Linked DNA regions of Homo sapiens: region 2 is linked to region 1. A link means that fine-mapping ties the variant in region 1 to the expression of a gene that starts in the linked region. Tissue or cell type: nasal epithelium. Region 1 holds a variant in brackets; the other region holds the start of a gene. All regions are shown on one strand. Distances are between the middles of the regions.

What was found. PIP is the estimated chance that this variant, and not a neighbour inherited with it, causes the effect.
Region 2: it holds the start of SLC5A12, and the variant in region 1 is fine-mapped to the expression of SLC5A12 in nasal epithelium (TOPMed, PIP 0.90).

What each region holds. Positions count from the first base shown.
Region 1 is chr11:27,054,708-27,057,396 of GRCh38, reverse strand. It overlaps BBOX1 (gamma-butyrobetaine hydroxylase 1), which reads right to left. Exons shown (of 9, transcript NM_003986.3): 3 at 1,748-2,004; 4 at 82-196. The coding sequence starts at 1,966. All of the region lies in intron 3 of BBOX1-AS1 (BBOX1 antisense RNA 1), which reads left to right. Among named protein-coding and RNA genes, the nearest start is that of BBOX1, 15 kb to the right of the region's middle. The variant A/G (reference allele first, on the strand shown) is at 1,299.
Region 2 is chr11:26,720,721-26,723,409 of GRCh38, reverse strand. It overlaps SLC5A12 (solute carrier family 5 member 12), which reads left to right and starts at 1,350. Exons shown (of 15, transcript NM_178498.4): 1 at 1,350-2,034. The coding sequence starts at 1,696.

The sequences.
Region 1 (2,689 bases):
AATTTTCTGTGAGCAAATTTCTTAATAAAAATCCTTTACTGTAAGGGTTTAAAAAGACATTGAAGACTTTGGCAAAGTTACCTGGAAAAAACAATTCTCTTTGGAGCTTTGCTCTGGCCTGCTTGGAAAAGCATCTTTTCTTCAGCCAATCAGCCTGGAATTCACTGTAATGCTCATCGGGCCATGTGATGTACACCTTATAACACAAAAAGCAAATTTCACCTATGTGGATTTTATTTCCGTTCTCCACTATTGCTCTGTTTTTGAATGCTGTTTAAGATAATCAGGGAATCCAATTATGCTTTGCTTAATTTTTTTTTTTTTTTTTTTTTAAGTCGGAGTCTTCCTCTGTTGCCAGGCTGGAGTGCAGTGGCGCAATCTCGGCTCACTGCAACCTCTGCCTCCCGGGTTCCAGCGATTCCCCTGCCTCAGCCTCCCAAGTAGCTGGGATTACAGGCACGCGACACCACGCCTGGCTAATTTTTTGTATTTTAGTTGAGACGGGGTTTCACCATGTTGGCTAAGACAGTCTCCATCTCCTGACCTTGTGATGCGCCCGCCTCAGCCTCCCAAAGTGCTGGGATTACAGGCGTGAGCCACCATGCCTGGCCAGCTTAATTTTTAAGACAGAGATTAAGCATACGCTTTTGGAAAACAAGGAAGCCAAAGTAATACATCTGAGGTCTGAGGCCCTTAAATAGCACTCAAGAAATAGAGCATGGATAGATCTACAGTTCTTGACCTACATCCTCTAAACCTGGGATCCCCAAACTTTCTGTGATAACTGAAGCTAGTTGTCAATTAAGATTCCTGCCAAGAGTATTAGAAATAGTAATGGTGCAGCTGGGTGTGGTGGCTTATGCCTGTAATCCCAGCACTTTGGGAGGCCGAGGCAGGCAGATCACAAGGTCAGGAGTTTGAGACCAGCCTGGTTAACATGGTGAAACCCCGTCTTTACTAAAAATACAAAAATTAGCCGGGCATGGTGGCCCATACCTGTAATTCCAGCTACTTGGGAGGCTGAGGCAGGAGAATTGCTTGAACCCGGGAGGCGGAAGTTGCAGTGAGCTGAGATCGCCCCACTGCATTCCAGCCTGGGCAACAGAGCAAGATTCCATCTCAAAAATAAATAAATAAAAGTAAGTAATAGTAGTGATGATAAGGAGTACAACAGCAATAATAAAAATAACACTATTTTGAGTATCCATAACAAGTACTATAGACATAACACATTTAATCTTTACAACTCTAGGGGGAAGGTACTACTATTATTCTCATTTTTTTCAGGTGAGAAATGT[A/G]AGAGTAAACAACATTTCTATCTAGCTAGCAAGCAGTGAAATCTGGGAGTAAAGTCCTCAAGTCGGGATGTGGACAAGAGCATAATAAGAATCCTAGTAAATTTGGAAGAGAGAAACATGGAATGGTGGCTGCCTCTGGTTTGTAGTTTTGAGAGCTGTGCTTTTGGGAATCCCAGAACAAGCCTTGTATCTCTACATACTAATTTGACTAAAAGACAAGTAACACTGCAAATTTTATTAAAAATAGTAGTAGTAATGATAATAGTAATAATAATAGCTGAAGCTTCCATTTACTGAATATACTTAATTCGCACCAAGTACTATACAAACGTGGGTTCATATGCGGTTATATATGCGTGACCAAATAAAAAAGAGTTATCTAAATTATTGTTGACTAGCCCCATTATTGAACTTGAGAAAGAAGGGAGACATAATTTAGAGATAATTACCTTTTTTCTGTCAAATATCAAGCCTTTAATTCCAATGTTCACATCAAGAGCTTCCACTAGAAGTTTCCGTGCTTTTGCAGAATCCAGGTAGCAATCAGAGCACGGACAGTTGTCTCTCAACCATACAGCTGGGTAGAGAGACTCTTCCTCATCATACCAGAGGATCTGCATCAAATGAGCCCCGTCAAGTGCTTCTGCCTTTTGGATGGTACAAGCCATGTTTCCGGTCTTCAGGAGTAGATGCTGTCAGCTACCTGCTATGACAAATCAGTGTTAAAAGGAATCTCAGGCAGATAAGATCTAAACTTGGCCTCTGAGAGTGTGAACACTTCAAGTGGACTCTGGCCTCTGCTATTCACTCAGCTGTCAGAGTCTGCGGTTTGACTTATTGACGCTGGGACCTTTGTTCTGGTGAGAGTATTTCACATACTGTAAGCAGAAACACAGTGACTAAAAGTAAATGGGATGTAAGTGCTGAGTCAGGATCCAAATGAAAAGAATTCCTTGTTTTTCTCACAGAAAATTCAGATATTAAGTTCAGAACCAATGACATATGCACTTTAATAATTATGTTTGCATAAAAGCTCTGGAATGTTTAAGGAAGAAAAATGTTCCACAAATTGAAAGTGTAACAATCACCCCTGTCCTATTTTAACTGGTGCCCACTTGGACATGGCTTTTGAAAAAAAATGTTTTTATGATACTAAATTAGTAAACTCGTCTTTATGAAGAGAATATTAATGCTTATTATTTACTTAAAGACCACTGTAATTCAGAATATTGCACTGTTTCTTCAATTCAGAATATTGCGCTGTTTCTGTTCTATCATTTGCTTTTTTACCTTTACAATACATTTTCTTAATGAAATATAGAAGTCCTTAGGTTCTGCAAGAAACTTGCTTGGTTTGTTGAGATTTTTTGTTTTAATGCATATCAATAGAG
Region 2 (2,689 bases), 330 kb after region 1:
CAAGATTTGCAGTAACATTTATCATATCAAATCTCCAAATCTAGTGGAGGAATTTAAACAGAGGACACAGACAGCTCTTGGGAGAGTCTTCATATTTTTATTGGTAACTAAAAGCATACTTTAGCTATCTAATTAAACCTTTCTTTGGTCTAATTCAAATTCATGAAGCAAAGATTTATTCAGTTATCCAGATGTGAAAAGCAAAATTAGAGCGTTTTTTGTTTTATTGTTTGGCTGGAAATGTTTCTGTCTTTGGGCATTATGGATAATTTTAGTTTTCTCCTTTCTAAAAATTATTTTTTTTATTTTCTACAATGGCTATAATGTATTGGGTATATGGACTAGAGCTTTGCTTCTGTCTTCAAGGAAATGTCATTTGAACAGCTGACAGACTCCTGTAGCCGGTTACATAGAGATTCCCTAAAATAGGCAAGATGATGGCTGAGTACAAAATGAGTACTAGGGAGGCTACGTTCTACAGGAGTTGACGTGGAGAGGCAGAAAAGCTTCACAGAGTAGAGAAAACTCATACTAGATCTTGTAGAATACACAAGCTTTGTAGAGGTGGGGATGGAGAAGGCCACTGAAGAAGGAGGAGAAGCATGAACAAAATTAGAAATTGCACTAGAGGTACTTTGGAACAATTGACAGAGTCTAAAGAGAGCAGAAACAGGAATTTATAACTGGATTGTTACCTTCCTTCTCTAATTTGTCCTGGTCCTAATTCTAACTTAGCCTGTGGGTACAGTGATAGTAACCTGGTGAAAATAAGAGAAAGACAAGATAAAGTTGAAGGCTATAAATAATTTATTAATTAATGGCAAATTGATTTTTCTAGGTCCTAGAATAAAGAAAGAAAAGCTATGATGTTCCAGAGTGCTCTGCTGTAAGCACAGATAATAGCCAATGGGGTACATATTATTACCTTTCATTTTACAGATCAAGACAAAGAGAGTCAGGAAGTTTAAGACTTAAGTCTTTAAAGACCTTGTAAGGTCTTATTATCCCTGTGTTCCAGGTGAAGTTCAGAAATGTTAAATGATTTATGAAATGTTTCATGGCTTTCTCGTGGTTGAGCCAGGACTCGAGCAAAGGTCTCTGAATTCCTAGTCCTTTGCTTCTTTCTCTCCACATCCACTGCCTCAGACAATTGCAGGCACACAGCCTTCACTCTCCCTTCTTCAAGAGGAAGACACTGCTGAGGATTGTGTTTGCATTTTACAGATTCCATCTCACGAATTAAAAATGCTGAGGTGGTAAATTGTTATCAATTCTATGTTTCCCAGAAATGTTTAACCTTAAGTTAAAAAAAATCTAAGAGATAAAACAGCATGTTATCTGGCCAGTCCATTCCACCCCCAGTGGTTATTAATTTCAGAACACATCTGAATTCCTTCTCTGTGGCATATGCTTTAGGAGAGGAGCAGACAGCTCTTAGCTAGGGTCAGATTTCAAATTCTCATCTCTTGGTGCCAATACCACCACCAGATTCTTCTTTGAAGTCAACTTTTGAGATCTTCACTAAGTACACGTTGGTGTCTGAAGATTCACACGAGTGCCTCTGGTAATCATTTTCTTCAGGGAATCACAGTCTCTCCTCTCAGCAAAGCATCCACTGTACTGAACTTTGCTTTTGGAAACATCTTCTTCCTGAGACCTCGTTGAAAGAAACTCTCTGGTGTCATACTTTCCAATATGGAGGTGAAGAACTTTGCAGTTTGGGATTATGTTGTATTTGCAGCCCTCTTTTTCATTTCCTCTGGAATTGGGGTGTTCTTTGCCATTAAGGAGAGAAAAAAGGCAACTTCCCGAGAGTTCCTGGTTGGGGGAAGGCAAATGAGCTTTGGCCCTGTCGGCTTGTCTCTGACAGCCAGCTTCATGTCAGCTGTCACGGTCCTGGGGACCCCTTCTGAAGTCTACCGCTTTGGGGCATCCTTCCTAGTCTTCTTCATTGCTTACCTATTTGTCATCCTCTTAACATCAGAGCTCTTTCTCCCTGTGTTCTACAGATCTGGTATCACCAGCACTTATGAGGTAAGATGATTTCTCCATTCTTCTCTAATTTTTTTTTCTCATCCTCTTGATGATAGCACCTGGTAGTTGAAGAACACTCACTGATTTTCAGGATAATTACACATTATGAGAAAGACATTAAAATGTTTTTGTAAAAAGCCTAAGCTTTGGAGACAGACATATCTATTTTCCCATCTGTAGAAGGAAAATAATGATGACAATCCCACAGGGCTATTTTAATGATCAAATGAGAACCTCTATGTGAGCACTTAATGTATGGCCTCATTTGTAGGAGGTTTGCAATAAAGAGGGCTGATGTTATTTTTTATTATTGTGAACGTCATCATTCTGAAAAGCAAACAGAACATTTCTCATGAGTACGGCAATTTTCCAGCTAAGAAAACTGAGATACAGATAAATGACTTAGTTAAGATTTTTGAATAGTAAAGTGACCTGAGAACCTAATTTTTTCTGTATCTCTACTTAGTGGCCTTTCCGTCAGAGAGTAGAGGGCATTTTAATACAAATTATAATAAGACTAATTTTTAATGAGGAAATGGAAACATTTTTGAAAAGTACAAAACATTTTAACGAAAGGAATTGCTAAATAATACAAATATGGGAATTATTTAATGTGAGGGAAATGAGGCAGTGGTGTTTTGGCTTTACAATGATT